Linked DNA regions of Homo sapiens. The protein of the gene in region 1 interacts with the protein of each later gene in a pairwise test. Each region holds a gene or a part of one and is shown in the gene's direction. Other genes may lie near its edges.

Region 1 (11,305 bases):
ATTAAGTACCATGAAATGCATTGCAATGTATATATTTTTACATTCTTAGCCTTAGAGAAACCACACACACACACACACACACACACACACACACACACACACACACACACACACACACACTTGTCTCCCTTTTTTCTTCTGTTCTTCCTTGTGTGGGTTATTTCCATTAACTCAACTACAAGAAGAAAAGAGTTACCTAAATGACATTTTTAAAGTTTGTGGGGGTGTTTTGCAGCATCCCTGGCCTCTACCCACTAGATGCCAGTAGAATCCTCTCATCTGCCATTCATGATGACTAAAAATGTCACCAGACGTTGCCAAGTGTCTCTGGAGCACAAAATCACCCCCAATTGAAAACCACTGAGTTAAAATAGAACTTACACACAATAGACAAAAATACTTTGTCTCTCCATGTATCTTAACACTGACAATTTAAAGAGAATAAAATTATTTTTGTTGCCTAATTATACTGAAAACATTGTATAAATTATTAATAATACAAACATCTTGATATTGTTTATTATATATAGTATATCCATTTCATTACAATTTAAACAAGGAAGGATGTCATTTATTAAAATTCTACAACATTTAGGAAATCATTGAGTAGAGCCATTTAATTAAGATATTAAAACTTCCAAAGGGGTTTGTGTGTGTGTGTGTGTGTGTGTGTGTGTGTGTGTGTGTGTGTTTTGTTTTTGGTTTTTGTTTTTTTTATTTTTTGAGACAGAGTCTCGCTCTGTCACACAGACTGGAGTGTGGTGGCACAATCATGGCTCACTGCAGCCTCAACCTCCCTGGGCTCAGGTGATCCTCCTGCCTCAGCCTTCCAAGTTGCTGGGACCACAGGTGCATGCCACCAAGCCTGGCTAATTTTTGTACTTTTTGTAGAGAGGGGGTTTCGCCATGTTGTCCAGGCCTGTCTTGAACTCTTGGACTCAAGCAATCTGCTTGCCTCGCCCTCCCAAAGTGCTGGGATTACAGGCATGAGCCACCATGCCCAGCAGCAAAAAGTGTGAAGTTTTAAAATCTTATACAAAGTTTCTATGTTCAATTATTAAAAGTTTTAATTGATTTCTTTTAATGTGTCACAGCCAGATAACATTTCTGAAAATCCAATAAAAATATACAGAATAATGTCACATTTGAGATGGTTTTACAGTTTACTAATTTTAGGAGCTATATATTTACTAAATTTCTGTTTTTGATAATGAAACAAAATAACCAGGGTCAATTTTAAAAGAAACATTGGTCATCTCCACCTCTTGCTTTATTGGAGGTGAATGGAGCCTACATACGCCCACGTATTTATACGAATCTAGTGAACTTAAGGGATCTTGCATGAATCAAAAGAACGACACATGTGTTTTCTTTTCATGTGATCTCATATTCTGTTTACCCCAGAGCAGTAGATCCATAGTTATGTGCCCAGAAAGTGCTTTTCAAGAGTGTTGTGGAGTATAAAAAACACGGAGAAATCAATTTCGTTTTCCCATCTCAGGAGACTCAGTGCCCTTTTGTGTGGCTCATGGCAACAGTAATCTGAACTTTTAAATCTACATGCTCTAAACTCTGAACGTTTGGAAGTAAATAGTAACATATTCAGAATGATTGAACTGCTTTATTTGTCATCATTACCATGGTTACTAATAAGTTATGAAGCTCCCATATGTGAAATTGCTGAAATGAGCATTTTATGAAGCAATTTATACAGATATGAAGGCTCTGGAAACTTACTACTTAAAACTTGTACATCAAGACAAGCACTAAATTTGTGCAAGACTTTGAAAAGTATAGGAAAATATAATATGCTGAGAGGCAAGAACCCTAGTATCTAGTTCTGTTTTCCATTTATTTTACTGAGATCTCCATCAAACTATTTAACAATGAATTTGTTACAGTATGTAACCAATATAAATAAGATTTATGAATCAAAAAACAGAAAGAATTGCAAATTATGTCCAAGATCTTCTTCTTTGATTAAACAACAAAGATAATATAATCAAAATGAGAAAATTAATACACGTATTAGAAAATATAAAGAGAACATAACAACAAAAGTAGATATTTTATGGGAAATACTCTATAAAGTCCATGAGGATACTAGAAAATCTTAACAGAATATTTTCTTGGAAATTGTAAACAGCCAAAATGGATTCAGAAAGAGGTATAAAACCTGAAATAAATGATAATGTAAGGAATGAAAAATTTTGAAGAACTCTTCCTCTAAAATGCACATGGTCCAGATTCTTCATCTGTGAACTCTTTATTTCTGGTACATTATATGTATTTCTAAACATAGACAATGTTAGAAATCTTTCTGTATCATTTTCAAGATGGTAAAGGCTAGGAAAAAAAACGCTTCAAGAATCAGCACTTGAAAAGGAACCTACCTGATATTCTTTTAAGAAAATAGGTTTAAAAATCATAGGGGAAAAACCAGGAATTGATTCCAGCAGCATACTAAAAATAAATTAAAAAAATGTTTTATCTAAGAATTGAATCAATGTGAAAAATGTATTAATGTAATACACCAAATGGTAAAAATTTTAATAGTGAAAAGCAGTTGATAAAATGCAACACCAATTACTGAGGAAAATAATTTTTTGTAATTACAAATATAATGCTCGTATCACATGACACATCATTTTTAAAGCCACTTGCCAGATTCCGTGCAGTAGTGGCATTCCTATTAGAGTAAAGAAGAAGACAAGGGTGCGTCTTATTCCCATCATTGTATTACTCTGTTCTGATAGTGCCACTGCAGTGAGAAAAAACAACATCCTACAAGAACATATAAAGAGATCCAAGGCTAAGGAAGGCGCATTCTAACTATGAAAATATATTAGCATTGGTCATCCATTCTGGTAGTATTATGGATGTTTTCTACTTTTTTTTGCTTCTCTATATTGTCTATACAGAATTTCTATTGCTTTTTTCAATCATTTTAAAAATGAGAACACAAATATTGAGAAATCATAATGAAATAAGAGATTGTCTTCCCTTTTCAGATGAATGGCTTACACTGACTGAAACTCAATATTTTACTGTCTTCAATTCTAGTTACATAGATGACTAAAAGCTTATGAAGAAATTTGTCACTTTTAAGAAATGCAAGACTAAAGGAACCTGAAGAAGAATTCTGTGTTTCTACTCTGGGAGCTGAGGCAGGAGGGTTGCTTGAGCCCAGGAGGTTGAGGCTGCACTGAGCTAAGATGGTGCCACTGCACTCCAGCCTGGGCATCAGAGCAAGATCCTGTCTCTATTAAAAAAAAACAACAAACAACAACAAAACACAGTTAAGTTCAACAAAGATGACAAAGCTGCATAATAGCATGACCCCAGTTTTGTTTTTAAGAAGAAATGTACATGTATTTACACAAAAAAGAAAGCACAAGGCAGAAAGATATGTTCCAAATATTTAGAAAACATTGACAATTGGTCATTCGTTGACGCTGATGGAATTACAGGTGATTTTTACTTTTCTCCTTGTGCTGCTTTGTATTTTCTAAAAAGAATTTCTATTGCTCTTTTTGAAAAGATGATACAACAAACATTGAGAAACCATCATTCAAAAGAGATTGTCTTCTCAAATGAATGACTTACACTAAGACTCAGTGTTCTATTGTCTTCAACCCGAGTTACATCAATGACTAAGTAAAAGCCAAAGAAAGCCACTTGATACTTTTATGAAGTGTAAGGCTAAAGGAAAGCTGAAGCAGATTTCTTATTTATTTATTTATTTATTTATTTATTTATTTTTGAGATGGAGTCTCGCTCTGTTGCCCCGGCTGGAGTGCAGTGGCACGATCTCGGCTCACTGCAAGCTCCGCCTCCCGGGTTCAAGCAATTCTCCTGCCTCAGCCTCCCGAGTAGCTGGGACTACAGGCACCTGCCACCACGCCCGGCTAATTATTTGTACTTTTAGTAGAGATGGGGTTTCACCATCTTGGCCAGGCTGGTCTTGAACTCCTGACCTCATGATCCACCTGCCTCGGCCTCCGAAAGTGCTGGGATTACAGGTGTGAGGCACTGTGCCCAGCCGCTGAAGCAGATTTCTATGTTCTTAGCATAGCTTTCTTCCTTGATGTAAGTAAAATGCTTTGTTACAATCTCTATGTGTATTGACTTTTCCTTCCCATGATGACTTTATCTAGTTTAACATTTCCCAAGATGACTTCATCTAGTCTGGCTTTATTTTTTTCAGATGTTAGCTAGGTGAGCTCTTCCTTCTGGAAATTTCCACTGCACCTAATACAGTGACATTGCTAGGATGGCTGGACTAAGTTGTGGCTCCCTCTCCTTTTAGTACAGCTTTTCCTGACTCCGTGTCCTTGCAACCAAGGTGAAGGAGATGAGAAAAAGCTTTCTCAGTTGGATTTAGCTGATGGATGTGGGTCCTTTACAATAAAATACCACCCTCGCAAGGAGGGAGAAATGATGTGTTTCTCAAAGTGCTGCAGAAGTCTCATTGTTGATATTTTCCTCGTTGTTGCTTTGAAAATCCAATGTTTCTATTTAACACCAGAGTCACCCAATCTAATTCTGCCATTCATGACTTTTGAGGAATGGGGTGGAATTTGGGGACTGAATTTATGAAGAGGCAGCATGGTAGAGAGGAAAGTCCTGACATCAACCTCTGGGCGGGGCGTTGATTGGCATCTGTGGAATGCCCACCGGGGAAAGATTCTTTTACACGCATTATCTTAATTCTCAGAGCATCTCTGAGGCTTTGTTGCAACTTCAGGGTTTTTTAAAACTTTTATTTTAGGTTTAGGGGTGGATGTGCAGGTTTGTTATATAAGTAAATTGTATGTCACTGGAGTTTGGTGTACAGATTATTTTGTCACCCAGATAATAAGCATAGTATTCGATAGGTAGTTTTTCGATCCTCTCCCTCCTCCCACCCACTATCCTCAAGTAGGTACCTGTGTCTGTTGTTCCCTTCTTTGTGTCCATGTGTACTCAATGTTTAGCTCCCACTTATCAGTGAGACTGTGGTATTTGATCAATTCCAATTTTGACCAATGGTGACCAGAGACACAGAGCAGTTGGGTGTGGTGGAGACAGGGTTCAAGTGTAAGTCAACCTAGCTGGTAAAGTGACACCCATCCCACTCATCCCATTGCTGCCAATGACTTCAACGCTGGAGCCTCAGTTCCCTCCCGTATGAGATGATGATAACAATTGTGAAGTGTCTGAGGATCAGAGAAATAACCCAGTGAAGGTACTTCAGAGTGGGTAACTTTTAATTACTGTTGTATTGCTGTACTGACCAATGTAGTCAGTAGCCACATGTGCCTACTTAAATTAAATTAAACAAAAATTCCATTTCTCAGCTACACTAGCTCCATTTCCAGTGCTCAATGGCCTCCTACCTGTAGTAGCTGCCATATTGGATAGTACAGACACAGAACATTCCCATCGCCACAGAATGTCCCTTGGACAGTGCTGCTCTGTATCATTAACTTTGATTTAATTCAAGTGCCAGACCTCAGGGCTGAACACAATCATTCCCTATGTGTGAATGTGCAGGCACCTGTGCAGTTTTGTTGTATAGGTAAATTGTGTGTCACTGGAGTTTGGTGTACAGATTATTTTGTCACCCAGATAATAAGCATAGTATTCGATAGGTAGTTTTTCGATCCTCTCTCTCCTCCCACCCTCTAACCTTAAGTAGGTAAGAGGAAGCTCCGAAGCTCTCCTGGGATGTTCACCCGCTGTGGTGAGAGTCAGGTGAGGCCCTTCACGGAGGGCACCCTTTGTTTACCAGAGAGAAGGGAGTCACGTTTGTTTCCTGAATGAAGATAGCCTATCTAAGAACCAGGTATCTCAGCCTCGAAAAGGTGGGAAGTGCATGTCAAGGAAACCTCTAGACAGGACTCAATTCTTCCCATCATACACGTAACCAGAGAATCGCAGAAGGGGTCGGGGAGGATTCCAACTTTGAGTCAGCAAAGAAGACATTCTTTTGAGGTAGAGTCAGAGTAGGGAAAACAACTAATCTGTTTTCCAAACAGGTTTTCATAAATAACTGACAGGAGATGGGCTGTTTTTATGGAAGTATTAACCCAAATGATGGGTGTTAATCATTAAACCTTTTTGGTGGTGGCTCGCTTGTTTCTCTGATATTCTAATCCGGGTCACAGAATGGCTAAGGCAGATTTAAGTGCAGCGTGGATTTTTTTTTTCTCACTTTGCCTTGTGTTTTCCACCCTGAAAGAATGTTGTGGCTGCTCTTTTTTCTGGTGACTGCCATTCATGCTGAACTCTGTCAACCAGGTATGTAGCCTTGAAATTTAAAAATAGATGAACAGTTTTCTACATGTTTGACAAGTCATCGACTGAAAGAACTCTTTATTTTTCTAAATCTGCAGACATGTTGTGGCTTGAAAGTTGGGGCAGTGAGTGTTTAATGAGTTTGAAAGAAAATATTAAACCATCTAAGATGATTTAGGTTAAACTTCCAGGAGTATTTGGGGCTGTTTAATTGTAGTTCTTTGTTCCATTAGTTTGAGTTGCATTACATATTAGGATTTTTCAGACTCTGTTTTGGCAGATCCTAATCATCATATACTGCTCTTTCTTTTTTCTTTTCTGGCAGGTGCAGAAAATGCTTTTAAAGTGAGACTTAGTATCAGAACAGCTCTGGGAGATAAAGCAGTAAGTGGAGCACCTGAGTGTTCTTTTTAAATTTTGTTTGCTAATAACACTGTGCTTTCTCTAATAATGGGCCTGTCTGCATAGTTACCTTAATCTTGAATAAATTATTTCTAAAGACCTCAAATCTGATTTCTTAAAGATAGATTATAGAATAATATGAATTTTTAATAAAGTAGGTTTGCCTAAAGTATTTAATCAGTAGTGTATGCTAGGCAACATGTGAAGTTTTGTGCCACACAAAACAACTTAAAAAACCAGCATCTCAACTCGGGATAGTGAAGCCAAGTGGCCTGAGTCAGTCGTTCAGGTCTGGACTGGGTCTACTCCTCACCGTTGTGGTCATTTGAATTTTGTTAGCCTCGATTTTCTACCATTGAAAATAAGGGATAGTTCTACCCACATAAAGTCTTTCATAGCACAAAAAATTTCCAATTTGAACCTGAAGTTTCTTCAATTATTCTCAATTATCAAAGTAACATATGAAATATATGCTTATGAAATAGAAGTTTAAAAAATAGTCATAGGGCCCATGTGGCTATAGGAATGGTAAAGATCATTGAATTAAAAAGACAGTATTGTCTAATTCTAGTTTCAGTTTCCTAGTGTGGTCTGCAAAATTTTTTCCCCAATAGAAGGTGACGTTAAGATGCCTTAGGCATAGAAACAGAAAAAAGAGTGCTAAAGAAACTTAGAGGTATTCTGTTTGCAGGCCAGTTCATCAATTTGGTATTTTATTATTGACTCAATGAGTAATGATTGTTATAACAGCCAGCATTTATTGAGAACTTATCTTACTTTCTAGCTGGGGCTCTTCTAAGCACCTTACTCCTATCAAATCATTTAGCCCTCACAACAATGCTTTGAGGAAGATAGTAGTACAGGTATTAGTATTCCCACTGAATGGATGAGAAAACTGAGGTTCAAAGAAATTAAGTAACATGCTCAATATTTCAAGTCAGCAAGTGGCAGAAGTAAGATTTGAGCCCAGGCAGTCTGAGTGCAGAATACACTGTCTCTACTAGTGTGCAGGGTTGGCCATCCCAGTATCCTCTAATAGCAGGTACGATGCTGAATGCTGGGATGTAATGGTGATTAAGGCTTGTCCTTACCCTTGTGGAGCTTATAGTAGTAGTAGAATTGGTCATCTATTAAATATTCAGTAAACCAAATGCAAATGTGCAATCTTGACAAGTATTACGGGAAGAAGTACAAGGGCACTTCGGCTTTGTCAAGGCCCACAATACCTGGCACTTACTGTGATGTCTGAAGCATGAGTTGAAGTGTTACAGGAAATGAAAGAAGGAAAGGCAGAGGGAACAGCATGTGCAAAGGCTTATCACAGGAAGGATCTTGGTGAGAGTAAAGATTAGAAAGAGGGCAGAAATATCTGGAATTGGGGCAGTGAGGAGGAACATGGCAGGTGATGAGCTTAAAGAGAGAGGAGCAGGCAGGCCAAGGAATATGTGGGCTGTGTTAGGGAGTTTCATTTTGAGATGTAGGGAGGGTTCAAGAGCATCAAATGCCGTTGAGAGGCCAAGCCAGAAGGCGACTGAAAAATGTTCATTGTGTTGGACAATATGGAGGTCAATGGTGATTTTAGAAAGAGCTCTTTTCGTGGGGTGGAGGAGCTGGAAGACAGATAGTGGGGAGTTAAAAAATAAATGAGTGGTGAACATGTTGAAACAGATGTGTGGACAACTCCTGGGAGAATTTTGGCTGTGAAGGGCAGGAAAGAGATAGCAGTAGGTAGAAGAAAGGAAGACTGAGTAAAATGATTTGTTTTTGCTGTTGCAAAACAACAGCTCTTTGCTATGGCTTTAATGAGAAAGTCTTGAGCTTGGTTAAAAGACAATGAACAGACTCCGGTCAGAGCTAAATACACAGAATGGAGGGGAACTGATATTGTTTAGATCTGAGAAGGGCAGAGGAGAAGCATTCCTAATATAAGTGACGGAAATGGCCTCTGATAGGCATAGTTCTGTCTGGCACTTCAGGAGAGGAGGCGGCTAAGACGTGTCTATGGAGGAAGTGTTGTATCTTGATGTCAGGAGGTTGGGAGAGTTGAAATTGATGAGATGTATCTATAAATTATGAAGCAAAACCATTTAGTGAGAGTGAGGTTTGAGGGAAACCATTGGGAAAAATGGTTAAAAAAAAAAAGCATTGACCATCAGTTCTCTCTCTAGAGAGAGGTTTGAAATAGTTATGTGACCCATGAGAAAGAGAACTGATGGTGAAACCTTAGGGATTCCCAGGCAATTTGGGGGTAGGTCATCATGAATTTAGAGTTAAACCAACTAACCCTGTTCTGTAATTGTCTCTAGTTATACCAGTTACTTACCTAAAATGTGGGGTTAGCCATGGTTTGAGTGTTCTTAGATGTGTGCAAAAAGCAAGGTGAGCTGGGGCATTTAAGGTCCTGGCACATGTTATTGAAATGAGGAACCAAGGAATCTAAACTGATAGATAAATATATGCAATTAATTTGTACCATTTGGTCTGTGAAGCCACACGTGGCATATAAAGATGTGTTCAATTTCACATTGAGCACCTATTATGTGTCAAGTATACGCACAACAGGTAGTTAAGCTGCTATGGACATTCTTATATGTGTATTTTTCATATGCCTTCTTTTTTGGGGGTATTTACCCTGGAGTAGATTAATGGATCATAAAGTATACAAATGTTTAGCTTTAGTAACTCTTACCTTATCCTCTCTTAAGTTGTACATTTTCTCATTAATATATGTGCTCAATTCCTTTTATAAGCGGAGGCTCTCTCTTTGAAGTGTTTGAATGCCCTGGGAGAAATACACTACGTCCAATGCACAAGCTTTCAATCCTTTTCACACTTGCCCAAGATAAGTTGGTTCCACTGGCAGGATACCCAACCCAATCTAGAACTGCATCAGTTCTGTTCTGATCTAAGTAGCTTGGACCTTTGTTCTGTGACCAAAATTGGACTCCTACCCAGCCAGCTTATGCTCTTGTTTTTGAGATGAACAAATGGAAGGACAGGAGATCAGGTCAAGTTGTCCCCAAGATCTGAAAAGCAACTGAAATTCATGTCCCAGGGAGAGCTGGCTAACATCTTTATTTTCATTTTCTGCACTGAGCTTATTATTCTCATTTGTTCTTGAGCAGGCTTATTCCTTGTGTCTGCATTCTGTTAATAAGCCTTCCCTGTCTTAATAGTGTTTCTGCACCATTTTTAATCAGACCCATTTCTTCTTCATGTTTTATTCATTTATTATTAGGTTAGATCATAGCTACTCTTATTCTGAATAAAATTAATTTTGGAAAAAAATGCATTATCAAAAACAAAGAGCTATGCCACCAATCAGTTACTTTTAAACTTTCATAGTATAATATCAAATGAAAAGTTCACATCAAAACATTGAAGGAGCACTTCAAATAAGATCTAAAGTTGACATTAAAATGCAGTATTTAACATTTGCATATGAGAAAAGTGATTTTTCCATTTCCATTCTTTTGTTGTTGTTGTTGTTGTTGTTGTTGTTGTTGTTGTTGGAGACAGGGTCTCACTCTGTCATCCAGGCTGGAGTGCAGTGGCATGATCTTGGCTCACGGCAACCTCCACTTCCCAGGTTCAAGCAATCTTCCTGCCTTAGCCTCCTGGGTAGCTGGGACTACAGGTGCATGCCACCACGCCTGGCTGATTTTTTTTTTTTTTTTGGTAGAGATGGGGTTTCACTATGTTGCCCAGGCTAGTCTTGAGCTCCTGGGCTCAAGTGATCCACCCATCTTGGCCTCCCAAAGTGTTACAGGCTTGAGCCACCACTCCTGTCCCCCTTTTCTGTTCTTTATGGTAACATCTTACAGCAGAGTTACATAAGGTAGGACTGAAGGAGAAAATGGTGAAGTGGAAGAAGCAACTGAAGAAAGTTTAAGGTTCTATGTTACAGAGGCCAAGGCAGGAGGATCACTTAAGGCCACACATTTGAGACCAGCCTGGACAGCACAGCAAGACCCCATCCCTCCTCCCTTCCAAAAAAAGAATATGCTATGAAAATATTTAGGAGAAAGGAAAAAGTACAGCACAGTCATAAACCTTACCCAGAGAAGGTAACTGAGTAATACATTTTTTGTTGTTGTTATTTAGGAGTCATTTATTTTTACTTACTATCCTCCCTGCCACCAAAGAGGAGAAAGGCAGTAACGGTAAAATATGTTTCCCCATCCCAGAGTGAAACCCCAATCCTGACAATGTCCTTGTGATATACCAACCCCCCACCCTCACCAACTTCTTCCGCTCAGCTTTTGCTACTTTCTCCCTTCCTGCTTCTCTTTAGTTGCTACCCTCCTTGGTGGTCCTTAAACAGCTCAGTTTCTTTTTGCCTCAGGCTTTTTGCATTTACTGCATTAAGGAGCAGAGTGAGTCAAATATACTATATTAATTTGCTAGGGTTGCCATAACAGAGTAACACAGACTGGGTGCCTTACACAACGGAAATTTATTTTCTCTCAGTTCTGGAAGTCAAGATGTCATAGGGTTGGTTCCTTCTGAGGGCTGTGAAGGAAGGATCTGTTCCAGGCCTCTCTCTTTGGCCTGTATGTAGATGGCTGTCTTCTCCCTGTGTCTTCATATCATCTTCCCTCTGTGTCCAGATTTCCTCTTCTAA
Region 2 (10,656 bases), on another chromosome or scaffold:
GTTAAGGTTAATTAAGTATTTGAACTTTGTATTTAACCAGGCTTGGGGTGAATTGCTTAAACGTTCTAAGTCTTATTTTCCTTCTTTGTAAAACAGGGATTAAGAACAATATCTCCTCTTAGGGTTAAGTAGCTCCCCTACGGTGGAAGAGTGTTGGGGACACCCAAGGACTCTCCCTGCCATAAGTACACACACATGCATGTGAGTGTACACACACACTCATGGCCACTGACCATAAGGCAGGGGAATAGAGTCTCAGGGCAGGAAAACTAAGGACTTCCTAGAAGCAAATCAAACGGAAAAACCCCAACTTTCTACGACCAAGTAAATAACTCTGTAACTCTACTTCAGCTATGACAGGAAATAACCTCTTCATACGCATAGAGTGTACACCAAATAAATAACTTTGCAACTTCACTTCAGCCTCTTTATTTATGCAGGGTATACACCAAGTAACCAGTGGGAAACCTCTAGAGGGTATTTAAGCCCCAGAAAATTCTGTACCCAGGGCCCTTGAGCCACCTGCTTGAGGCTGTTCCCACCCTGTAGAGTTTCATTTTCAATAAATTTCTGCTTTTGTTGCTTCACTCTTTCCTTGCTTTGTTTGTGTGTTTTCTCCAGTTCTTTGTTCAAATGTTCGAAATGCCAAGAACCTGGACCCTCCACTGGTAACAACCAGACCTCAAGTCCAGGTCTTCCTTGTGGACAGGACAGAACCAAGGCCCAGCTCCCTCCTGACCCACAGCCACAGATGTGATTCTGGCAGTGAAGTCCCCTTAACCCCATGTTTTAACCACTGGAGTTAAATGACTGCCAAGTAGGTATGAGGCAGAAAAGGAAACAGGCTACATGATTAAAACATGAGAAACAACAAAACAACAACAGTTGATTTTCTGATGGGTCTGAAGCCTTTGCAGGGATTGTCCAGGTCTCTGAGATTATAAAGTGAGAATTTCTGAGGCTTTCAGATTTCATAGACCAAAACCATTACAAAAACATTTTGGGAGTGGGAATGGAAACTGAGGCTGTCAACTTTTTATTTTGCCAAAAAATGACCAAAACAAAAAACCCACATCCAAATGATTACAAATATAATAATCATTGATACAAGAATTGCATACATTTAGCTTTACATTGCTCTGATTACTCTCATTTTACCTCTGAGTTGTGAAAAACCTGTCTGTGGATTTGCAGCCATCGGCAGATAACTCTGGAACTTCTGCTACAGAGAATGCACAGCCAGGCATGAACAGGGGCCAAGGGAGTAGGTTTATGAACATACATTCCTGACCTCAGCTCCTGGCAGCTGCAGTCAGGCAGCAGTTTTGAGGGTTCCTACTTCTGCAAACATTCTGAGACATGCAGACCACCATTCTAGGCCTCCCCCTCTTACTTCATTACTTGCATAATTTATCCCTCAAGGACAGTACAGCATAGCACAACACATGGCTTATCTCTGATGCACAAGGTTGTGTTTCTTCATTTATCCTGCACACGAGTCTTTGTCCTCCCCACAGCATCACAAAGGGACCCAGCAGAGAGAATCTTCCACAGCCTACACTCATTATATTCTCTTTGTCTTTTCTCCTTCTTCCTACAAAGTTAATATCACATGGATTAAGTCAGAAGACTCACAAGGCTTATATTATTCATTCATTTGTTTGCTCATTTATTGATTGATTTAATACATATTTATTGAGTTCCTGTATGCACCAGGCTCCATGCTAGGTATTGAAGGTATAGTAGTGGGCAAGCAAACGCAGTCCCTTTTCTCGTGGAGGGAGAATTCGAGAGACACAAACACATGAGAATATGTAACTATAAAAATATGATGAGAACAGTGAAAAAAACAAGGAGTGTCATGAAAGCGTGCAACAGATGGGGTGGTTAAGAAAAGCTTCTCTGAGAAGACGACATTTAAGGCAAGGCCCGAGAGATTATGTAGTGGACATTCACTGGTTTTGTTATCCTTGATCAACTTTCCCTTCTTTGGTAACAATGCCCTGATGATTATGTTTGGAGGCTTTCATTCAAGGTGTCCTGTTCTTCTCTGGCTGAGGGTAGGCATGTGGCCAAGCTAACCAAGGCTGACGTTCTTCTAGGGTTTGGAATCTTGAGTGGAGTGATGCAAAAACAGAAAAACCAGAGTGGCTTGTTCCACTGGTTGAGCCTCAACAAGGTGTCTGTTAGGAATCAAATCTCCATAAGATTCCTGAGCTGTTTGGTCTTTGAGCTTTCCAAAACTTGGCTGAAGAGACTGAGAGCTACCTCTATGTGCACCAAATTTTTTTGTTTACATTATTTCCCAAATAATGTACCACAGAACTCTAATGGGTTCTGGAAAGCGGGATTTAGCAAAGTGAAGAGTTTGGGAAAGAGCACGTCAGTGGAAGGAACAGCATGTGGAAGGGGCTTTCTGTGAAGAAGAGAAGAGCTTGCTGGTTTGGGGAACAGAAAGAAAGCCAGTTGGGCAAAGTGTGCTGAGTGAGGGGCAGAACAGTACCAATATCTCTGTAGGGGCAAGCTGCACCAGACCTCATGGGGCCATGTATAATCGTTTAGATTTTATCACCAGCACATAGGAAAGTTACAGACATATTTTGAGCATGGGAAGAATATTTTAAATAGCAAAAATGTCACAAAGGAAAAACAGAAGAGTTCAACTAACAGCGTAAAGAACTGTGAATTGGTCATCCCAGTTCTGCTCTGAGCCAGCTCCAGGACCTTGGATATTTGTAAGGCTCTGATGATTTCTCTTAGCCCCAGTTTTCTCATCTGTAAAATGAGGTGGTGGGTTAGATGATCTCTAACTCCATCTCTGATGTTTCGTGATCTATGATAAAACCATGCCAATAAATGTAATTGTCATTAAGGAGCTTACAATCAAGTGGGAGAGATAAACACACCTAACCTCTATGATACCTGCTGTTGATGTTCCAGGGAGTTCTAACGTTTAAAGCTTTTGGTAGCTTACAAGCTGATTTTGCCAGCCCATTGTTATGTTGACTGCCAAAGGATTTTAAACAGTACTAGGCTCAGTAACCAATTCAATGAAGAACTTTCAAAGAGGGTATTTACATGAAGTGTGATGCTCTGCTAAGCTTAGATTTAGTGACTTCAACTGAATGCTTCATAACAGAAAACGCTAGCAAGAGTACTGATTCTTGGGTGAATTTCATCTAGAACTTGTAACTGCAGGAGTGCCTGTGAGTGATCTGTGTGTCAGTTATCTATTACTGTATAACAAACCACCCTAACACTTAGTGATTTGAAACAACCACCATTTTATTTCTCACAATTCCTGGGTTGGCTGGACTATTTTTGGCTGGCTTTCCCTGGAGCTCACTCATGTGGCTGAGAGCTGGTGGGCTGCATAGCTGGGACAGCAAGGCTTTCTCTTCTCAGGGTCTTTCCTCTTCAAGGAGTTGGACCAGGTTTCTTCATGGCAGTCTCAGGATAGCATTTCAAGAAAGCAAGGAGCAAGGCACAAGTGCACATCGAAAGCCCCTGCTTGTGTCATATTTGTTCATGTCCCAGTAGCTAAAGGAAGTCACAAGGCCAACTCCAGGGTCAACGTGGGAGGGAGCTACAGAAGGACAACTCAGTAGGGGTGATTCATTAGAAGCCATTAGTGTAAAATGTGTAAACTTTTCCTCTGAGACTTGCATTGCAAGATACACAACTCTAACCTATAAAGGATGACACTTTCTTTTTCTTTTCTCTCTCTCTCTCTTTTTTTTTTTTTTTTTTTTTGAGACAGAGTTTCACTCTTGTTGCCCAGGCTGGAGTGCAGTGGCATGATCTCAGCTCACTACAACCTCCGCCTTCTGGGTTCAGGTGATTCTCCTGCCTCAGGCCTCCCAAGTAGCTGGGATTATAGGTGCCTGCCACCACGCCCAGCTAGTTTTTGTATTTTCAGTAGAGACGGGGTTCATCGTGTTGGCCAGGTTGATCCCGAACTCCTGACCTCAGGTGATCCACCCACCTCGGCCTCCCAAAGTGCAGGGATTACAGGGGTAAGCCACCACGCCCAGCCAAGGATGGCACTTTCACAGACACAATATCTATGTTATTACTACTATAAGGGAGCATGTGGAGTCACCTTATTAAGGGACTGAGTCCTACATCAGTGGCTCTGCTTGCCTCATAAAATTATTCATTAATTTTTAGCAGTGGCCTTGGGAAGTTGTGTACATAATATTTAGAGGAAAATGGCATTTACAATGATAATGAATTAAAGCAATTCACACGGCAGTACCACTGCCCCAATTTAAACCTTGAGGCTTGCTAATTTCATATTTAGCTGCATCCCATATGCTCCCAATCCCTCTGCCCTAGTGTGGAGCTACAGCTCAAACTCCTTTGAAGGTAGGAAACTTACCTCACACACGCGTGTTCCCCTCATTCTTTCAGCGCATAGAACACTAAAAAGATGCTCCTTAAATACATGCTAAATAAACTGATCAATAGTTGCCTTTTATTAAATATCTTTGTGTTTCAGGTATTTCCTTATTTCCTTCACAGACCGGATCATGAATGATCTCCCAATGTGACAAGGTCTTATTCTCCACAGTTTACCGTTGAGGGGACTGAGGTGCAGAAAGCCCAAGGTGTATGCAGCCCAATCCCCTCTGATCCCACTCTACTGCATTGCTGCCTTTTGTACGCAGCAGGAAGGACACTTCCTGTAAAAATGAAAAAAAAAGCCTTAAGTTGTTTGAGAGAGGGTCAGGAAGAAAACAGGAAGAGCCAGTAGACTGCAGGTGCTTTCAAAGGGCTCCCTGTCTTTGACATCCCTAAAATAAAAACTTGTTAATTAAGAGATTGGCCACAGAAATCCAGGTGGAAAACCTGCAGAAGAGTGGGTTCCACAATTCTTCAAAACAGAACAAAAAAACCCCAAGACTTGTTATATTTTTACCGGTGGAGGGGAAGAGGTTACAGGAGTGGCCTTGCTCCCCGGGCTGGCCTTGCTGAGCAGGTGACAATACCACACATATAAAGGTTTTAAGGTGAAAAGGTAGTCAATATTTTACATTTCGAAGATAGTTTTTAAAATCACCTACTGCATCAGTAGTAATACAACAATAACTACCATTTACATACCACCGCACACATCGGGGCTGCGTAAAGAACTTTATAGTGCACCATCTCAATTAATTCTCACAACTCTGTGAAGTAGGTTTTATTATTCTTAATTTATAGACGTGTTCACTGTGGGCCAGGGAGATGAGCTTTCCCGCGATTGCCCAGCTTTTAAGAGGTAGATCTCAAACCTAAACGTGTTTGACCAAAAGCCCTGAATAACATTTAGCCGTGGGCCTCTTGCGGATTTGGCGCTGGTCCGAGGTGGGGAATTGTGAATCTCATTTATTTATGCTGAGCTGCGCACACATATGCACGTGTAAGTTACAAAAAACAAATCCAGGTCAGGATCTCTGTCCGCTTGAGGTTTCAAAGCCTACTTGGGTAGACAGCGGTAAAAGTCTCAACTCATTCATCTACTCGTTTGCTCTCTTCACAAGTATTTATTGCGCACTTCAGTATTCCAGACAGGGCGCTAACCTTGCCCTGGAGGAGAGAATGGTGAACACAACAGACATGGCGTTTGCCTCCAACTATCCCCTTTCCGATTCTGCTATCTCACGGGCGAGGCGTTCAAAGAAGCAGGAAATATATCAACAAGGGGGTGACTTAAGCACCCGCTGCGCGGGAGCCGGAGGAAGCGCGCTGAGCCTGCAGAGGTGGTCAGGGCGAACTTCCTGGAGGCAGCGGCAGCAGCAGGCCGGGCGAGAACCCAGGTCGCTCGGAAGCGACAGTCTGAGCCGGGAACGGGGAAGAGGGGGCGGGAGCCGAGGCCCGGGCGGGGGCAGCCAGCGAGTTAGGGTTAGGACGGGAGGATTCGGCTTCCCGGCGGCAGAGGGCGCCTGGCGCTGCGGTCTGGCGCGCCAGAGTCGCCCGCGCGGGCGCCGAGAGGAGAGGCGAGGCGGGGAGCGCAAGCGGCGGCGGCCACTGCCACGTATTCCCGGCAGTGGTGGCGGCGGCGGCGGCGGCGCCCGCGGGCAGGTGGGCTGGGAGCGGCGCGGCGGCGGCGGCGGCGGGGCGGGCGAGCCGGCGGGCGGGCGCGGGGCACGGGGCACCGGGCACCGGGCGGGGGTGCGGCGCCGGGACAGTACGGTTCCCGCCACGCCGGCTCCGCCTCCGCGCAGTGCTGCTGACCCAGGCCTGGGCGCCCGGCGGGTCCCGAGCGCAACTCGTGCGGGCGGGGTTGGGGGCCCGAGGGACTCGAGCTCGCCTGCCCGTCGCGGCTCGAGACGCTGCATCCCGGTTGCTGCGGGGCGGGGGCTGGGAAAAGTTGGGGCGGACCGCGAGCCCGCGGGGCCGGGCGGGAAGTGCGGGTGCGGGGCGGACTCAGGGGCCGGGGGACGCAGTGCAAAGGGCTTGGGCCGGGGCGGCCGGGAGGGCCCCGTATGGGAAGGTGGGAAACGCGGGTCCTTTGAGGACGCCGAGAAAGGGGTGCGCTCAGGGTCTCTGGGAGTGGACAAGAGTCCGGCGGCGGACCTTGCGGGTGAGAAGGGTCGGCGCCTGGGGGTCGGGGAGTAGAGGTGAGGCGGGGGCGGGATAGAGCCTTCCTCCTCCCCCGTTCTTTCGGGACCGACCCTGAGACCCGGGGCAGGCTCCGAGCTGGGTACGCCTCTGGCATCTGAAGACCCAGTGGGGAGTTCCTGTACGGGGTGGGTGGAGGAGGGAGCTGAGCGTTGCTTCCTCTGCTGCTGGGGCCGACTACCGCCCCTCCCCAGCGGCCAGATTCACCTCAGACTGCAGTGCTTTTGCCCTGAGGAAGTTGAGGAGGGACAGCTGAGCGGATGAGATGTTTGGGGTGTTCCAAGATGAGTGGGATTAGGCTGCATGATATCATAACTATCTCCGGGAGCTGTCAGAAAACACTCCCATGTCCTCATACACCCACCCATCCACTCATCCAGTCAGTACTGCCAAGCTCCAGGCTCCCTTGCTCTTTAAGTGACACCTCTAGATCCCCAGAGCCCAACAGCGCATCTGCTCACAGCCTCGAGGGTGGCAAGGGTGGAAGACATGGCCTGCTAGTGTCTGCGTAGGTTGGTGCTTTCAGAAACAAGTGGTTCTGGAGGTGCTGGATGCTTTATTAGAACAACCTGTGTGGAGCCCGTTGACAATGCAGATGACTCATGTTGGCTTTTTTTTTTTCCCCTTTACAAATAAACTTTGTATTCAAGACACCAGTATGCCTGGTCATTTGCAGCAGTGATACGGCAAGAGACCCATAGTGGGCTTCTTGAGCCCTTATTCTCGTCCTAGATGTGTTAGCAAGAAGTTTGACCTTGGATGAGTCACTTGCTCTCTCTGGACTTCTGTTTTCTTATCTGTCACATGGGGTATAAAGAGAGAGCTCGACAGTGTGATGTAGACAGGAGTAGGTTTCTGAGGGACACAGTGAAATCTTTTTTCTTGTAAGGCTGGATCAGCCACAGAAAATAAGCCTTAGCCTGTTCTTATAAAGAAATTAGCTTAGATTTAAAATAAAATATGAGAAGAAATATTGCAAAAAGCAAAACAACAAAAAACTAATAGTAGTTGGTACTCGATTTACAACATGAATACTGTTCTTATGCTTGCAGTTAGTGTACTTGGTTGTCCAGCTATCTACTATAAAGTTGCTCATTGTGCTTAGAAAGTGTGTATTTCACCTGTGGACCCGAATTTTTTCTTATTGTTTAATCTTCAAGCTTGGAGTGGACGCTCAAGCTTGGAGTTGGATTGGTCCTGCTGGGGTTTGTCTGAAGAACATCCTCAGGGTCTCTCATTGCATAATATTATAGGTTTCCTTCTGTCTGACTGATGCTGGGGTCCTTGTACAACTATGCTTCTGCCATCTTTTCCATTCTGGCTTGAGAAGTGGTGAGCTGGTTCCTCTTGCCTCTGGCATGCCCAGACTTCTCATTTCTTTTCAGATGAGTGTAGTAAAAGGCAAGCAGTGAGTTAGAGGCAGCACATTAAAAATTGCTCCAGGCAATCATCTGTGTCCCCTCCACCCCGCTCCTGTCCCCTAGACCCCCTGGGCAACTTCTCACTAGAGCTTCCTGGTCATAAGCTGGCCTTGACATTTTGGGTGCTGAGGGCCATCACAGCATTGAAGTGACTTGGCCAGGGTCACACCACACATTAATGATCAAGCCATGGTGCTGGAAGAAGAGGAATTTTTTTTGTGTGTGTATTTTGTCATAACTGAATGTTCCTGTTCTTGTCCATTAGTAGCTTTCAAAATCCATATTGGGTTTGACCACATCATTTTCAGTAATCCTTTTTTGTCAGCTTTTTGGAAGCTGCAGTTAGTGGTTCTCTCTGAGTTTGAGGTAGTGGTATTTTATTATTAAACAATTTTTTCCAAATATTTTTTAAACTACTTTCCTTTTCAGACCAGATGAGGTAGTGTTAAAAATGATATCTTCTCCAACAAGTAAAGGCTTGATTAATTAGGTTGAGTCTTTAAAATATCTAGTGTTTGTGTGTGTATAAATTTTACTTTAATTGAGAAGTATTGATAAAAATCATAATCGTCACCATTTGAGCCCCTGCCATTGAGCAGGCATTGTGAGGTAGGAGTGAGCATCATTTTACAGGAGAGAAAACAAAGCCAAGAGATGGCACGACTCTGGTACAGCTGTCGTGCATAAGTTACTGATGATCTTTCAATCCATGTACCATTTTGTTAACAGTGGAAAAGGAATTCTCAGCTATCCTACAGGGTTGTGCTAGTTAAATGAGATACTGTATGTGAAGAGCAACAAGTAAACTCTTAACGGGCTCCCTAACCCAGCACATTTTAACATAAACACTTGTAGACTCTGGAAGCAGTGTGGTGAAGTGGTTAAGTTCAAGCGTCTTGGGAGTCTGGCAGGCCTGGGTGTAAATACTGAACCTGCTGCCTGACCTCTCTGAGCCTGGTTTCCACATGTGTAAAATCAGGATAATACTGTCTGTCTTATATTCAAGAAATGTACCCACTAATTGCAGTGGGTGCTGAGTAAAGATTGGCATCCACTCCTTTCCCTTGCACACAGGTACTTGGGTCAATGGGATTGAGTAAGTCTTTCAGCAGTTGTCCTCAGGGGGAAAAGGCTTAAAGTACTTTTTGTACTTATCAATGATTCTTCTAGCCTTTTTGCCTTCCCACCCTAAGCCCCAGCACGCGCAATGAATATTCCAGGGCCTGTGATTGTCTTGTCCAAGGGAATTGAAAAAATCGTAAGCCAGAAAGGACAGGTCTTTGATAGAAAGTTGAAAATGGATGTAGCTGGTTTCCCTTTGCCCATTTTGTGGCCTTCCTCCTTTTTTTTTTTTTTAAATTAATTTTGTTGGACAGGGAAAAGATACAGAATTCAGGGGGTTCTAGCTGGAAGGGGGCCCTGGAAGAGCCTATAGTATAGGGCAGCTAGAGAGAGGAGTGGGCTGGCTGACGGTCAAAGCTAGTTTGGTGTGGGGGAAATTTCTGTTAGATGCAGGATTTGGCTTAATATGGGACCAATTTCCATCTAGTCCTTTAAGGCCCTCTTTTGGGACTCTGAAGTTTTTGTGCTCCAGGCAGATTTTGACTGGTTGTGGTGGCATCACAAATGAGTTTCCATAGTAAATTGTATGCTGAAAGGAAATTAAATTCCAAGAGGGTGTTTGTTGTGACTGATGCCAGAATTTCCTCTGAGAATTTTATTAACATTCAGTCTGTGAAAGTACTTCTTAGTTCTCTGAAGATAATAATTAGGAAATAGTTTTTAAAAAGTAGAAGTGTCGTCTTTGTGAGCTTTTGAAATGTCATCTTCCTAAATCTTTGGAGCAAATGAGGCTCAAAACATCATAGAGACTTATATTTTAAAAGCATTTCTTCCTAAATGTACTGTTTTCCTTCTCTTCCTGTTCCTTCCGTCCTCCTACATTATTTTGATAATGAGTTAATTTTGGTTTCTTTCACATTGTGGTGGCCTAATTTTTAAATTTATGACCCTTCATTTTTAGATCTTGCATGTATTTTTTTTTTTTTACCCTTGAGTCAATTCTCATTGATTATGAAGAGCTGGTATAGCAAGATGGGAAAGAGAGAGGACCCTGGAGCTAGGTTGGTGAGATCTAGGCTCTTTAGAACTTGGATTCGGTCCTCACAGTAGCTCTGGGAGGCTGATCATGCTATTCCCAACACACAGATGTGGAAATGGGTGCAGAAACACATGTGTGTTCACATAGCCAGCAAGTGGTTTATCTAAGTGTCACTGCAATGATCTGTAGGACTCCAAAGCCCATGCTTCCAGCTGGAAAGGCAGGCAGGGGCCTTGCATGCTGTGCCAGGGTTGGGACTTAGTCCTGTAGGCAGAGAGGGTCAGGCCTGTATTCTAGAAAGGTAGCTCGGTGGCTGTCTGGAGTTTTGAAGTGAAGCAAGTAGAAATTAGGTGTAGAGAAACTAGTTCATTAAAGTAATGTCTTGAGAGATGAGGGCCTGAACAGAAGACATTAAGACAGTGGCAGTGGTTGCGGAGAAGAGGGGGCTTGTTGGAATCCATAGAGCTTAGTGCCTTTGGATACTAGAATTGCATCATCCCTTCCCATTTCAGGTCTGATGCCCCAGGG
Region 3 (10,493 bases), on another chromosome or scaffold:
GCACACGCTTGTAATCCCAGCACTTTGGGAGGCTTGAGCCCAGGAGGTGGAGAGCAGCCTGGCCAACATGGTGAAACCCCGTCTCTACTAAAAACACAAAAATCAGCCGGGCATGGTGGTGGCGCACTCCTGTAGTTCCAGCCACTCGGGAGGCTGAGGCAGGAGGATGGCTTGACCCGGGGAGGAGGTTGCAGTGAGCCGAGATCGCGCCACTGCACTCCAGTGTGGGCGACAGAGCGAGACTCCATCTCAAAAAAAAAAAAAAAAAAAAAAAAAAAAAAGAGAATCCCGGGGTGGGGAGGGAGGAAGAAAAGACCAAAGAGAAAGAGGGAAAGAAAAGCTTAATTTTTAAGCTAGATGGTAAAATGATTGAATTATTTACATTGTGGTATATTTAACTGGAGCTGTTTGGGTAAAAATGTATGGTGGCTCCCTGGTCACACGGTTCCTTAGGACAGCAGAGGTGCTTAGTGAAAGGTCCAGAGGATAATGCACATGTGAGTAGTAGTGCAGTTTAGAATGGAGAACTGGTGGAACCCAAGAGATTGTTGTCAGAAAACATCGCTCAATTTCGATAGGTTAGACTTAATACTATGATGATAAGCTTTTAAAAATCTCCAGAATTTTGTATATTTCCAAAGTATGTGAACTATTGTCAGCTGGTTGAGCTTTGGTTGACATGCTTCTAGCTGTGTCATAAATTGCTTCCTTTTTCTGGTTTCATTTCCTCAAAGATAGTGTTGCTGCTCTAAAAAAAAAAACACAATGCTTCTTAAAAATCTATTTTTGTTAGTGTGTGAATTATTTGGAGTTCATGGAGAAGTTGAATTAGGTAAGATATGGGACTTACTGAAAATGCTGGGAGGCATTGTGAAAATACTTCCTTCCTTTGCTTTATTCTCAGTCCTGTGGTATTTTTAGAGTAATGCCTGTGTGAAGGGGAGCAACTGAAAACTCCAATTTCCTGTGTATGGCAGGGTGCACACACACACACACGTAAAATACCAACATACCAGACAAACAAAAAACAACCACACAATGTGAGGGATATAATCTTTTACTCTTTATCTGATGTGGGATTGTCTTTGATGTATGAGTGGAAAGATTAAGTGAAGACAATACAGATAGCTGGTTAAGGGCCAGTGTACTAGCATGTGGATATAGTAAATTTTTTCATTTCATAGGTGGGGAAACTTTTTGCTTTATGGTTTTTTTTTGGAATGGACTTGTGATTATGGATAGAGCTGTTGTGTAGGATCACCTCACAGTAGTTGTCTGTGGTAGTTGTCAGTAGTTGTCTATGGATCTGCTACTGTAGTAGCAGTAGTTGTCTATGGATCATGCTACTTGTCTATAATCTGTCAATAGTTGTCTATGGATCAAGCTACTTGACCCGTGTTTGGGTCTGCTCTGGCCAAGGAAGTAGGGTCTTATAGTACAAAGTGAAGAAATGTGTATAAAGCACCTCCTTTGGCAGCTTCTTCATCAGGGGGCCATTGACATGTGCAGCAGGTGGTGGGAGTATAAGAGACTGGTGCAAAAGTACCCACTGCCTCCACCAGAAGTCTAAGAGTTACCTATCCATGCCATTGGTGTCAACTGCACCTTCCCACTAATCCACTCAAGGTTTCATGTCCAACTCAGGCCCTTCTCGTAAGCTATAGATACACAGAACTTATGGTGACTCAACATCTTCATTTCCCATAGAGTGAAAAAAATCTCTGTAAGTATAAAGACAAAACTCATCAGTTTTCTTCTCCTCCCCTAAACTTGCAGTTTACCCTAGTATTTCATATCTCAGGGATAGACAGCACTCAGGCACCTATGGGAGTCATTTTTTATTTCTTGGTCGCTTCCTTGCTCCATCCCTGCCCTGAAACACACAACTCAATACACACACAGAAACACATATATCTAATCAGTCACTGTTGTCACCAGATCAATCAAAACAAAAACTGATTACCCCCAAATTGAAAAATTTTCAGTAGCTTTCTGATAGCTGTCAATAAAGTTCAAAGTAAACTGCTTAGCTTGGCCTACAGGGCTGCTCATGATTGACCCTGCCCTTCCTCACCAGCCTCACTGTCCACCACTCTTATGCTCTTCCTCATTTTCTTTTTTTTTGAGGCAGGGTCTCCCAGCCTGGAGTGCAGTGGTGCCATCACAGCTCACTACAGCCTCAACCTCCTGGGCTGAAGTGATTCTTCCACCTCTGCCTCCCGAGTAGCAGGGACCACAGGTGTGTGCCACCACACCCAGCTAATTTGTGTATTTTTTGTAGAGACGAGGGTTTCACCATGTTGCCCAGGCTGGTCTCAAACGCCTGAGCTCAAGTGTTCCCTCCACCTTGGCTTCCCAAAGTGGTGAGATTACAGGTGAGAGCCACTGCACCAGGCCTGCGTTTTTACCTATCCATTTTGCCTGAATGACTCTCTAGCTGGAGTAGCTTTTCTCACTTAGGTGCTTTGGTTCCTGTTGGAACCTCTGCTTAGAATGCCTTCCTTTAAATCCATCTGAAATTCCTATAGTTCTTCAAGCTTTAAGGTTCAGCCTTGTCTAGCTCCCCTAGGCAGACTAAAGTAGTTCCTATATATACTTGTACATATATACTTGGTCAATATTACCACTTGGTTGTAATTATTTTCATGTCTTTCTCTACTGACTGTTACGGAAGACAAGAAGCAGGTCTTGGTCATTGTTTTATCTCCAACACTCAGACATTCTTTAAATGTTTGTTGAACTGATACATTTGCAGGGTCCTCCTGGGCAGAAACATCACTCTGTAGGCATTTGCTTAAGTACCTTCATTATGGGAGCAGGAAGAGGCAGTTAGGGAGCATGCCTTCCTTAATATACCTGTCTCCTGCATTTCACTCATGCTTTGGGAATTGATAATATCAAGATAATTGCTTTTGAAGAGGAATCCATATATGGGAAGCAGTGGCCTGTAGAAGATCCCTTTATTTTTAGCTGTATACAAACCCCAATGTGAGGCTAGTGAGCTAGCCAAGGTGTGTGAAGAATGCTAATGCCTAGGCCCACAGCACCTAGAGCATGGCTCCAGAGTGTCCATGTGGCCTCTATAAGAAAGAAGAACAAGAGCAGGCATCCAGGTGCCACCCCTTCCTTTCCTGGCACATCTTATCTCACCACAGTGAAAGGATTCCATGGAAAAACCTTTCCAAGAGATAGGAGAGGAGCTGGAATAAAAGTTTCCTCTCTAGCCATGTAGAAGCAAGAGATGGAGTATCAGGAGGGGCAGACTATGCTGTAGCCCGGTTGCCAGGCAGCACTGTGAACCATGACTGTTTCCTAACAGTGGTATTTCTCCTCAGGAGCCAGGGAGCCATATCATAAGGCCAGCGAAATCTGCTGAGGCATGGTTTTGAGTTAGGAAGAATCATTGAGAAGGCCTTATATACCAGTCCATTTTCAACCTTAATGACTCAGGGACTGGGCAGGAAGGAGGGGTGAAAAGGAAAGGAGAATTTTGTGGAGAAATTATTGACTCTTATTTGACAGATGTAAACATCAGATCAAGTGACTTGTTCAAGGACTTAGAGCTACAAAATGTCAGAGTCAGAATTTTAATGCAGCTCTAAATCGAGTCCCTGTTTCTTTTCACTGAAGCATTCATAATATATGTTATTTTTGCAAAAAAAATAGCTTATGGAAACAAGAGACTAATCTCACCTTTTGGCTACATGACCTTAGCTCTTACATGGTATGTGCCTGAGTGACTTATGAACTAATTAGCTATTTAGCTGTTGAACCAATGATTGTTCCTTTACAGGATTGGTACAGATACATTCTTATAACAATTCTGACCCTTTATACATCTCTCATAATATCCAGGTACAAGTTTTGAGTGTTTATTTTCTTCTCTCCTGTTGAACTGAACTGAGTAGGGAAGAGGCAGAGAAAATGCGATAAGGGTATAGAATGACATAAAATCTGACTTCAGCTTAATCATTATTGAGTTCAGCCAGTTGACGAGGAATGAAGGAAAAACAATCTTTTTGGCATCTCCAAACTAATTAACTTCATAACAGCTTCCATAATTGCATTTCTATCTAATAATATTAACTTAAAGGAATGATATGTTTATGTGGCTTTAAAGCAGGGTTTTCCATCTTTGTTCTATGGGTCCCTTCAGGAGTGAAATGGAAGGACAGGGAGTAGATAGTCCGCAGGCCCTTCCACTGGCCTCTGCAACCAAAGCGGCTCTGTGGTTTTTGTTTCACCTGTTGGGGTTCTCATTAAGCTTTCTTTGAATGAAGGATTTTGTTTTATTAAATAAGTTTAATTGTTTTATTAAGTAAGTTTAAAAACCATTGCCTTTAATCGGATTCTGAGAGCTATGTTGAGAGAAGATAGTAAAATTTAATTCAACTAATATTTGAGTACTTACCATGTGCTAAGCCCTGAGGAGACTGTACTGCTACAGCTACACTGTCATTACTATTGCTTAGCAGGAAAAACAGATATTAAACAAGTAATTACAAGTGAGATGAACTTCATAAGAGGAAAAATACAGTGTTATGATGGCATAGAGCAAGGAGACTCAACCTGGTCTCTAGGGCAGTGGTTTCTAAACCTAACCAGAGTAATTCAGAGAGCATTCCTAGTCTCTACCCCTCCCTAGGACGCCTCAGAGATTTTGATCTGCCCAGATTGAAATCTCCAAGCACTGTAGGGGGTGGGGGGCAGGGGGCAACCAGGGAAGGTGTCATAGAGACATTCCTGAGAAGTTACTTAAAGGTCTAGGGTAGCCAGACTAGACGGTGAGGCGGAGGATGGGGCCGGAGCAGCCTGGGCCCTGAGGAAAGCTGTATAGAAAGGCTGAGAGTGGAGGGGAGGTAAAGTGTGTTCAGGGAATTGACCAAAGCCCAGTCTCTAGACTTGGAGGGAGAGGGTGTCTCAGTATGTACATATTTCTAATATAGCATTTATCATTCTGTTTTGTATTGACTGCACCTCCCAGCCGTCAGTCTTTAGTGACCAAAGCCATATTTTGTTTACGCATGAAGCTGTAGCATCTAGTACCTAGTAGGAACTCAAGAAATAGTTGATGATCCAGTGAACAAAGTCTCTGCATATAGGGGCTTAGTTCAGAGTAAGAAATGGAAAAGAATATTAATAATTGTGAAGTAGGATAGTAACAACTTTTTTTTGGCCAGGCATGCTGATTCCCGCCTGTAATCTCAGCACTTTGGAAGGCTGAGGTAGGAGGATTGCCCGAGACCAGCCTGGGCAAGACAGGGGGACCCCAGCTCTACAAAAAATTTAAAAATTAGCCAGGCATGGTGGTGCATGCCTGTGGTCTCAGCTATTGGGGAGGCCAAGGTGGGAGGACTGCATGAGCTTGGGAGGTTGAGGCTTCAGTGAGTGAGCTGTGTTCGTACCACTGCCCTCCGGCCTGGAGGGCTTTTTTTTTTTTTTTTAGACGTAGTTTCGCTCTTGTTGCCCAGGCTGGAGTGCAACAGCACGATCTCAGCTCACTGCAGCCTCCACTTCCTGGGTTTAAGCGATTCTCCTGCCTCAGCCTCCCTAGTAGCTGGGATTATAGGCATGTGCCATCACACCAGGCTAATTTTGTATTTTTAGTAGAGATGGGGTTTCACTATGCTGGTCAGGCTGGTTTCAAACTCCTGACCTCAGGTGATCCACCTGCCTCGGCCTCCCAAAGTGCTGGGATTACAGGCCTAAGCCACCGTGCCTGGTTTTGTTTGTTTGTTTGTTTGTTTTATTGAGATAGTCTCTCTCTGAAGCCCAGGCTGGAGTGCAATGGCACGACCTCAGCTCACTGCAACCTCCACCTCCTGGGTGCAAGCGATTCTCCTGCCTCAGCCTCCCGAGTAGCTGGGATTACAGGCGTCCGCCACCATGCCTGGCTAATTTTTGTATTTTTAGTAGAGACAGGGTTTCACCATGTTGGCCAGGCTAGTCTCGAACTCTTGACCTCAGGTGATCCACTCGCCTCGGTCTCCCAAAGTGCTAGGATTACAGGCATGAGCCACCACGCCTGGCCTCAAATGCAATTTTATGCAAAAGTCTTGATACATACCAAACCATTGTGGTTATATACATGTAGGGGTTCCTTCTCAGTTAATCTCTCTCCCCATAACATTCCAACCTGTGCCTCTACACATTTTACTTTTATTATTACCTCTTCCTATTCATATCTACCTGGGGAGTTTCTACTGTTATTTCTTTCACATTCAGTACCTGACTCCTTTTCTCTTCCATTTGCTCTAAAGTTAGATGCCCAGCCTGTCCTCCCAGCATCTGGTGCATACCTCTCTTTTGAGCTACATCAGTGGTTGCAAACCCAGTTTTGAGAAGCCTTTTCCCTAACTCAGCCATCCCACTGCAGTATCCTGACATGTTTTAGCACCAAAAGCTTGAAATGAGAGGGGTTGGGATCCAGAGTGCATATCAAAGGATTGAATTTTGAGAGCCAATAGAAGACAGAGGGTGCAGATACAGATAGGATTGTAGATTGTGATAGGCATCTGAGCAGCTCCTGCTAGCAGTCATTCATCAGGGAGATAAAAAGCTGGGTGCCATTAACTGAAAGAGAGGAGAAATTAGACTAGGTGGGAAATAATCTTGGAGTGCTAGGTGGAAAGAGTAGGCTGGAAGGCCTACTAGAGAAATGTGGGGACATTAGGTGGCATTGTATCCCAGTAGAGGTTGTTGGTAATGACTTGTAATGGCATTACTGCACCATCCTCTCTGACTTTTTTTCCTCCTTTCAGTGATGCTCAGCTGTTTGGGTATAGACAGCAAATAAGATGGTTGGGTTGGGTCAGGCACAGTTGGATTTTATTAAGGGAGTGTACAAGAGGGACTCCTAAGAGCCAAGGGTGTGGATAAAGAGGAAAATGAATATAAGTATAGGAGGGGTGAAGAAAGTTGTGGGGTCAGTGGACTGGAGGTTTTAGTGAAGCTGAAGGATCATTTCAAGAAGGAATTTCATCGGGGCTTTGGAGAGTCAGTGAATTCAGGGGACAGTCCATTCATTTAATGCAAGATAGTGGATGGAAAGTCCCAAGAGTTGGAGGATATAGAGGTGTTTCCTGTTCACCGAGCATGAGATCCAGAGAATACATTTTTTGTTAATAAAGACATTTTAACAGGTAGAGCCAAATTGCCTGTGTTGGAATCCCATCTCTGTCATTTACTAGCTGTGTGACTATATAATCTCTCCGTGTCTCGGCTTCTTCATCTGGAAAATGGGGATAAAAATAATACCTATCTAGTAATGTTGTATTAAGGGTTAAATGAGTTATTAATGTCTGTAAAAGCACTTCAATAAATACCACCATATAGGAAGTATATATAAGTACTTATTAAATAAAAATAGTGTCTTCACTATATATTTAATATATAACTCTTTTAAAGTGTTAATGCCTAGCAACTGTTTCCTTCCTCTCCCCCTCTATTTATTCCCATAATCTTATAATTAAACCTTTGCCATATGCTCATTTGCACTAGTTCTCTACACATTTTTTCATTAGGCTCGTAAGACTGTGCTAATCATTCAGAAAAGTATATTTTAAATATCTCTATTTTATGAATTTTATTTTAGCTGTTAAACGTTTAATGAAAGAAGCGGCAGAATTGAAAGATCCAACAGATCATTACCATGCGCAGCCTTTAGAGGTTAGTTTCTATCTCCATGTTCTTCATATGGATTTTAATATTTAAAACAAATTTTTTAAAATTGCTTTTCATTGCTTTGAGTCATTACAGATGTGTGTGATGTAGTTTGACGTTTTATTCACCATATTTCATGAATATTTCATTAGCCATTCCAAATCACTTTAGAAGAAACGGATTTTGTGGTCTTTATAAAATGGGTCTCAGATGCTAAGTTGAGGTTAGATCTTTTTTTTTTTTTTTTTTTTTTTGAGGCGGAGTCTCACTGTGTTGCCCAGGCTGGAGTGCAGTGATGTGATCTCGGCTCACTGCAACCTCTACCTCCCAGGTTCAAGCAATTCTCCTGCCTCAGCCTCCTGAATAGCTGGGATTACAGGCCCCCACCACCACGCCCGGCTAATTTTTGTATTTTTAGTAGAGACAGGGTTTCACCATGTTGGTCAGGCTGGTCTCAAACTCCTGACCTCGTGATCCACCCGCCTTGGCCTCCCAAAGTGCTGGGATTACAGGCGTGAGCCACTGCACCCGGCCGAGGTTAGATCTTGAGTCTGAGGGAGGGGAGGTGGAAAGAACCCCAGATACTTTACAGTTTGGAAGCCTTTTGATGGGTCTCCGTAGCTACTCAAGGCTTTTTGTATAAACATCTCGGCCTCTCTCAGTCTTCTCATTTGTAAAAGGAGGGTATTTAAATATACCCAGGCAGGTTTTCATGGTAACAGTGGGAATAAAAATATCATAACTTAAGTGCAAGTATTTTGTAAACTGAAAAGTACATGGTAACTGTAAGATGACATTAAATACATTAGTATTACCATTTTATAAATAAGCTCTTAGGCATCTATAAGGGATAATTTTTAAAGATTTGTTAAAATAACCCAAACATAGTAATTTTTTGATTATATAATTATCATAATTTGCTATTCTTTCAAGGATTAATTTCCAATTTAAACCTGTAAGTTACTTATGAATATATAACAACACTCAGAAATTTTTAATGTGTTTATTATAAAATATTTTAGCTCAATGGAACATGAAAGCTAGATTAAATAGCTTTTACTTATAAATTTAATTTATCACTTATAGTCTCGAGACATCTCATGCATTAGAAACTATACTAGCAATAATATAAAGCATTTAATTTTTCTTGCTTGGTAATATTTCTAATATTCAGATAAAATGATCAAACTTTTCAATATTATTAATTCCTTGTGGATTATTGTTTTTGTTCAGGATAACCTTTTTGAATGGCACTTCACGGTTAGAGGGCCCCCAGACTCCGATTTTGATGGAGGAGTTTATCACGGGCGGATAGTACTGCCACCAGAGTATCCCATGAAACCACCAAGCATTATTCTCCTAACGGTAAGAATTTTGGATTTTTAGAGTGCTTGTGGCTTCACTCTTCCTGGTAGCTGCAAAATATAGTAAGCAAATCATTTTCATTAAGAAATAATAGAACAGTATAATTTTGCTTTTGGGGTCCAGGCCCTGGGACTACAATTTTTTTCCTCCAAAATAATTCCTAGGAAGCTGATGCATCTGAGAAGTAAAAATGATACAACTGAATGCATAAATGTCATATCATGGTTGTTAGGATTCAATGAATTAATATATGCCAAGTGCTGGGCATACACATCTGGCACTTCATAAGTACTCACTAAAGGGTAGCTAATGTTATTGTACCTTGTAATCATATTGTCTCCTTTAACTTCCCACCTTTCTTACACTCTCTTCCTCAGTTTTCTCATCTTTACAATGAGAATAATGATACCTACCTCATTGAGTTTATGTGGGATGAAAAGTATCAAGATCTTATTGTATAGCTCTTAGAATAGAGCCTGACACAGAATACTCAATAAGTGTTAGCATTATTATTACTGTTTATATCTCAGATTTTCTCTCTTTCTCTCCAAATTTACACATCTTTTCTTCATGTGAAGGAAAACTTTTTTTTTTTTTTAAGAGACACGGTCTTTCTCTGTTGCCCAGGCTGGAGCGCAGTAGCACGATCATAGCTCACTGTAGCCTCAAACTCCTGGGCTCAAGCTATCCTCCCACCTCAGCCTCCTGAGTAGCTGGGACTATAGGCACATGCCACTGCACCCAGCTAATTAAAAAGTTTTTTGGTAGAGACATGGTCTCATTGGTCTTGAACTACTGGCCTCAGGCAGTCCTCCCATCTCAGCCTCCCAAAGTGCTAGGATGACAGGTGTCACCATCATACCTGGCCAAGGAAAACTATTGATCTAATTCCTCTTTAATTGTTAAGCTTTTCTTCTCTCATTTCCTTTAACTATGTTTAATTATCCCCTAACCTTGAAAAAAGCAAAAACAAACACAAAAACCATTCCCTGTATCTGTTATCACTTTAAGCTGTGCCTATTTTTCTCTTTGGTAACCTCCAAGGCATCCTTTCCGTAGTTTGGCCTGCTGCAGTCCACCTTCCACACATAGTGCCCTGTTGAAACATGAAACTACACCAATCTCAGAGACCAGTTTGAGAAATCTCACTGCTTCTCCTCAGCCTTCATCCTGTTCTCAGTTAAACATCTTACCCACACGGAGTAGCAAATGGTGAAACAACAGGTATTCATCAATAAATACCAAATTAGGCCGGGCGCGGTGGCTCACGCCTGTAATCCCAGCACTTTGGGAGGCCGAGGCGGGTGGATCATGAGGTCAGGAGATCGAGACCATCCTGGCTAACAAGGTGAAACCCCGTCTCTACTAAAAATACAAAAAATTAGCCGGGCGCGGTGGCGGGCGCCTGTAGTCCCAGCTACTCGGGAGGCTGAGGCAGGAGAATGGCGTGAACCCGGGAAGCGGAG

What was found.
Region 2: the proteins of CLTRN (region 1) and SMCO4 interact in binary tests that used the Homo sapiens proteins (3 or more experiments, as listed by UniProt).
Region 3: the proteins of CLTRN (region 1) and UBE2J1 interact in binary tests that used the Homo sapiens proteins (3 or more experiments, as listed by UniProt).

What each region holds. Positions count from the first base shown.
Region 1 is NC_000023.11:15,659,695-15,670,999, reverse strand, and holds the start of CLTRN (collectrin precursor), read left to right. Parts: upstream 1-6,194; 5' UTR 6,195-6,224; coding exon 6,225-6,282; intron 6,283-6,604; coding exon 6,605-6,663; intron 6,664-11,305. UniProt on the Homo sapiens protein: Plays an important role in amino acid transport by acting as binding partner of amino acid transporters SLC6A18 and SLC6A19, regulating their trafficking on the cell surface and their amino acid transporter activity.
Region 2 is NC_000011.10:93,538,686-93,549,341, reverse strand, and holds the start of SMCO4 (single-pass membrane and coiled-coil domain-containing protein 4), read left to right. Parts: upstream 1-5,950; 5' UTR 5,951-6,066; intron 6,067-10,656.
Region 3 is NC_000006.12:89,340,858-89,351,350, reverse strand, and holds part of UBE2J1 (ubiquitin-conjugating enzyme E2 J1), read left to right. Parts: intron 1-7,594; coding exon 7,595-7,668; intron 7,669-8,895; coding exon 8,896-9,027; intron 9,028-10,493. UniProt on the Homo sapiens protein: Catalyzes the covalent attachment of ubiquitin to other proteins. Functions in the selective degradation of misfolded membrane proteins from the endoplasmic reticulum (ERAD) and is essential for cells to recover from ER stress.